2 separate regions of the Homo sapiens genome follow, and region 1 is linked to region 2. Evidence: fine-mapped expression QTL. A gene starts in region 2. The other region holds a variant in brackets. All regions are shown on one strand. Distances are between the middles of the regions.

Region 1 (2,909 bases), 31 kb before region 2:
AGCCTCCCCTGTGCAGTTTTGCCTGCAGGTTCTTGCCCACAGGCACCCTCAATATTGTTTTGCTGGTGGTGTGTGCGTGGGTGGACCTAGCCCACCCTTCCCCAACAGCATGCCTGTGTGTGCACCCTGCTGTGCCACTGTTGCCAGCATAAGTGCACCCCAGCCCCTCATTCTCCTCTCCCACCACCGTTGTTGTCAGAGTGTTGGCAGCATAGAGCCCGCCAGCCCCACCCCTCCCAGTTCCCCACCTATGCTGGGCCTCCCACAGGAAACTAGGCAGAGAAAACAGAGGACCTACCCCTAGCCCTGAGCAGCCACTGCTGCCAGTGTGAACATGCACAAAGGGCACACACAGTCCTGCACCCACCAGTGCCCCCATGCTAACCCCATCATCGGCACCAATGAACAGGTGCACAGTTGCCAGCGTGGCCCCTGCCCCCACCCCAGCCATACTGCCACTACTGCTGCTGCTACAAATGCCCTCCCAGAGGCTGGCTCCCTGACATCCACTAGCACTCTGTCACAGCCGATAAGCGTGCACCCCGCTGTGCTGCCGCTGGCACATGCAAACAAGAACAGATCCTGCTGCCACTACCCTATGAAGTGCTTTGCCTGGCACCACCCATTGGAGTGTTGTGACCAGCTGTCTGGGAGCAGCTTGGCCCCTCTAGCAGAGCAGGTTCTTAACCTGAAGGAGCCAGAGATCAAAGCCAGGGCTGGATACCAGTCCTCCAGAGTTAGAGCATGCAGTTCAGGAGTCCTAAGCTGAGCCTTGGTCCCCTAAAATCTTCCAATAATGAAGCCATCCAACTGAACCCACCTTATACACAATCAAACCCCCAGGGTCATCAAATAGGATAAAGGAAAAAGAAACCCATTCAAAGGACAGCAACTTCAAAGACTAAAGGAATATCAGCCCACAAAAATGAGAAAGAACGAGCACAAGGACTCTTGACAACTCAAATAACCAGAGTGTCCTCTTTCCTCCAAACTGCAGTAGTTCTCCAGCAAGAGTTCTTTTTTTTTTTTTTGAGACGGAGTTTCGCTCTGTCGCCCAGGCTGGAGGGCAGTGGTGCAATCTCGGCTCACTGCAAGCTCCGCCTCCTGGGTTCACGCCATTCTCCTGCCTCAGCCTCCCAAGTAGCTGGGACTACAGGCGCCCGCCACCACACCCGGCTAATTTTTTGTATTTTTAGTAGAGATGGGGTTTCACTGTGTTCACCAGGATGGTCTCAATCTCCTGACCTTGTGATCCGCCCACCTTGGCCTCCCAAAGCAAGAGTTCTTAACTAGGCTGAGATGGCTGAAATGACAGAAATAGACTTCAGAATATGGATAGGAACAAAGATCATTGAGATTAGGAACATTGAAACCCAATCTAAGGAGGCTAAGAAT[T/C]ATAATAAAACAATATATGAGCTGGCAGACAAAACAGCCAGGATAGAAAATGATGTAACTGACCTGATACAGCTGAAAAACACAGTATAAGAATTTAATAATGTAATCACAAGTATTAACAGTAGTACAGACCAAGCTGAGGAAAGAATCTCAGAGCTTGAAGACTGGCTTTCTGAAATAAGACAGTCAGATGAGAATAGAGAAAAAATAACGAAAAGGAATGAACAAAGCCTCCAAGAAATATGGGATTAAAAAAGAGAGCAAATCTACAACTCATTGGTGTCCCTGAAAGAGATGGGGAAAATGGAAGCAACTTGGAAAACGTATTTCAGGATACTATCCATGAGAACTTCCCCAGTCTAGCTAGAGAGGCCAATATTCAAAATCAGGGAATGCAGAGAACCCCTGCAAAATACTTCACAAGATCATCCCCAAAACACATAATCATCAGATTGTCCAGGGTCAAAATGAAAGAAGCTAGAGAGACATAGCAGGTCACCTACAAAGGGAAGCCCATCAGACTAGCAGTGGGCCTCTCAGCAGAAACCCTACAAGCCAGAAGAGATTGGAGGCCTATATTAAACATTCTTTTTTTTTTTTTTTTTTTTTTTTTTTTTGAGATGGAATCTCATTCTGTGGCCCAGGCTGGAGTGCAGTGGTGGGATCTCAGCAGGTCACTGCAACCTCCGCCTCCCAGGTTCAAGCAATTCTCCTGCCTCAGCCTCCCAAGCAGCTGGGACTACAGGCATGCACCACCACGTGCTGCTAATTTTTATATTTTCAGTAGAGACCAGGTTTCACCATGTTGGCCAGGCTGGTCTTGAATTCCTGACCTCAGGTGATCCCCTCCCCTCCCCCCTCCCCCCTCTCCCCCCCCCCCGCCCCCGCCTTAGCCTCCCAAAGTGCTGGGATTACAGGTGTAAGCCACCACTCCTGGCCAATATATTAAACATTTTTAAAGAAATTCCAATCCAGAATTTCACATCTGGCCAACCTAAGCTTCATCAGCAAAGGAGAAATGAGATCGTTTTCAACTTGGGTGTGGTGGCTCAACCTGTAATCCCAGCACTTTAGGAGGCCGAGGTGGGTGGAGTGCCTGAATCCAGGAGTCTGAGACTAGCCTGGGAAACATGGCAAAACCCCATCTCTACCAAAAACATATACATTAGCCGGGTGTGGTGGTACCTGCCTATAGTCCCAGCCAATTGGTAGGCTGAGGCCAGAGAATAGCTTGTGCCAGGGAGGTAGAGGTTGCAGTGAGCCATGATCATGCCACTGCACTCCAGCCTGAGCAACAGAATGAGACCCTGTCTCAAAAAAAAAGAAGAATAAAAAAGATCCTTTCAGACAAGCAAATGCTGAGGGAATTTGTTTACCAGCAGACCTGCTGTACAAGAGCTCCTGAAAGAAGTACTAAATATGAAAAGAAGGCCGGGTGTGGTGGCTCATGCCTGTAATCCCAGCACTTTGGGAGGCTGAGGCAGGCGAATCACCTGAGGTGTGGAGTTCGACAC
Region 2 (2,909 bases):
TATCGGAGCCTTATAATACAATACAAACAAAGTCGTCATGGGCATGGCCATTCAATATCAACAGCTGAGACTGGGTGCGGTGGCTCACGCCTGTAATCCCAGCACTTTGGGAAGCTGAGGCGGGCGGATCACTTGAGATCAGAAGTTCGAGATCAGCCTGGCCAACATGGTGAAACCGCATCTCTACGAAAAATACCAAAATTAGCCAGGTGTGGTGGCGGGCGCCTGCAATCCCAGCTACTCGGGAGGCTGAGGCAGGAGAATTGCTTGAACCCCGGAGGCAGAGGCTGCAGTGCTCTGACCCCGCCAAAAATAACTAATTTTTTAAAAAATACAGCATGTTTGAATCTGCCAAACAAAGTTGTCTTGGAAACAAACTTTGTGGTGACTTCGAGCGGCGAGCATGGCCATTTAATATCAAGAGCTGGCATCCACTGAACATGTATGCACTGCTTTTTACTTTCATGACTTCCTCTCAAGTTCCCAACCCTCTTAGAATAAGTTACTACCCTGACTCGTACAGAAGAGGAAACTTGAGGCACGGAAATAAGAAAGTCACTGGCCTAGTGTCGCAGGGCAAATAAGCCACAGCACTGGAATCCAAACCCGGGTCTCCAGCTCTGGCCTCCTTTCAACGCCAGTTCTAGCTCTCCCCTCTGCTGCCCACTCGGGCCAGCGGGGTCTTCTCATCCTTGGAGCTCCCCCGGCAGAGGGCGACTCTTCTCTCACTCACGTACAGCATCCTCTCCCCGTAATTAAGGTCTCCTCTGACCGCTCCCCTGCCCTCGGAGCGTCCCAGCCCTGACCCCAATTTCCAGTCTCCCGGCGCCGGGTGTTCCCGCCTCCCCGCCGCCTTCTGCTTCTGCTCACCCGCTTCTCCTGCATTTTCTCGAAGGCCGCCTGGGCCGGGGTCCGCTTGTCCAGGCCGCGCCGCTTCTCCTCCTCGTTCTTTTTGCTCGTTCCCATTGCTTCCAGGAGTTTCGCTTTGTCTTTGTCCTTCTTTTTCTTCTTCCTGGAAAAAGACATGAGGAGGCGGCGGGTCGGAGGATCAGGGCCAGGGGTCCCGAGAAAAGGTCTAAGGGGGATGAAGACGGAATCCCGCGGGCCCTCGGGCCTCACCGCTTGGTCACTCCCAGCTCTGCGACGCCTTTCAGCTTCAGGGGTCCCTTTTGGACCTGCTCGTAGGCCTCCATGACACTCTCCAGTGCTTCGGTAGCTGGAGTGCCACACTTCCTGTTTGCAAACACTATTTCCGCCCGAATGGCCGCCTCGCTTCTCTTTGATTGGCTGAGCTACAAGGTGAGCATGCGCTCTTGGTTCTGGACCCGGGCCACACTTCCGGGTAGTGGGCGGGACAGAGAGCCAAGCGAATGAGTGCCCTTCGATTCCTATCTGCTGCCACACTTCCGAATTTGGCGCCCACTTCCGGTCTCCCATTCTTCACACAGGGTGCTGGAAACCCAACCCCTTTTTGAGCGTTTTGCGCACTTTTGGGTGACCTGTTCTCTCTCCTTGATTTTTTTTTCTTTTTTAGAGACACGATCTTGGTCTGTCACCTAGGCTGGAGTGGAGTGGCGCGATCGTGGCTCACTGCAGCCTTGAACCCTTGGGCTCAAGAGATCCTCCCGCCTCAGCCTCCCCAGTAGCAGACTGCAGACGGGCGCCACTGAGCGCGGCTAATATTTTCATTTAAATTTTTTTGTCGAGATGGGGTCTCGCTGTGTTGTCCAGGCTGGTCTCGAACTCGTGGGTTCAAGTGATCCTCCTGCTTCGGCCTTCCAAAGCGCAGGGATCACAGGCCTGAGCCACGCCCCACCACCCCCGTTCTCTTTTATTGCCATATTTTGAGCGTTCACTGGATAGCTGAACCTAATTTTGTAAACCTAATCAGTATTCATTAATTTTTCAGCTTTAGGTAAATGACAATATCATGTGACAAGGTTGGTGGTATGTTAAAACAATTAAAAATCTATTTTATGCCGGGCGCGGTGGCTCACGCCTGTAATCCCAGCACTTTGGGAAAACGAGGTGGGCGGATCACGAGGTCAGGAGATGGAGACCATTCTGGCTAACACGGTGAAACCCCGTCTCTACTAAAAATACAAAAAATTACCTGGGCGTGGTGGCGGGCGCCTGTAGTCTCAGCTACTCGGGAGGCTGAGGCAGGAGAATCGCTTGAACCCGGGAGGCGGAGGTTGCAGTGAGCTGAAATCACACCACTGCACTCCAGCCTGGGCGACAGAGAGAGACTCCATCTCAAAAAAAAAGTACATATATATTTAAATCAGCACTTTGGGAGACCAAGGTAGGCGGTTCACGTGAGGTCAGGTGTTGGAAACCAGCGTGGCCAACATGGCGAAACCCTGTATCTACTAAAACAAAACAAAACAAAACACAAAAAGCAAAAATTAGCTGGGCATAGTAGCCTGCGCTTGTAGTCTCAGCTACTTGGTAGGCTGAGGCAGGAGAAGCGCTTGAACCCGGGAGTCGGAGGTTGCAGTGAGCCAAAATCGCACCACTGCACTCCAGCCTGGTCAACAGACAAAGACTCCGTCTCAAAAAAAAAAAAAAAAAAAAAAAATCAATAGAGATAGGGTATTGCTGTGTTGTCCAGGTTGGTCTCAAACTCCTGTCCTCAAGCAGTCCTCCTGAAGCATTAGAATTACAGGCGTGAGCCACCACCCCTGGCCCTTTCTTTCTTTCTTTTCATCCTTTCAGTACTGTGCGGTTTTCTTACATACGATGTGTACATGCATATATCTTTTTTTTTTTTTTTGAGACAGAGTCTCGCTCTGTTGCCCAGGCTGGAATGCAGTGGCACGATTTTGGCTCACTGCAACTTCCACCTCCCAGGTTCAAGAGATTCTCCTGCTTCAGCCTCCTGAGTAGCTGGGATTACAGGCGCCCAC

Evidence for each region.
Region 1: its variant is fine-mapped to the expression of FAM32A in whole blood (TOPMed, PIP above 0.99).

What each region holds. Positions count from the first base shown.
Region 1 is chr19:16,214,567-16,217,475 of GRCh38, reverse strand. The region is part of intron 5 of AP1M1 (adaptor related protein complex 1 subunit mu 1); the gene reads right to left. Among named protein-coding and RNA genes, the nearest start is that of AP1M1, 18 kb to the right of the region's middle. The variant T/C (reference allele first, on the strand shown) is at 1,396.
Region 2 is chr19:16,183,727-16,186,635 of GRCh38, reverse strand. FAM32A (family with sequence similarity 32 member A) reads right to left here and starts at 1,226. Exons shown (of 4, transcript NM_014077.4): 1 at 1,120-1,226; 2 at 871-1,012. The coding sequence starts at 1,193. RefSeq lists enhancers at 1,632-1,681, 1,584-2,219.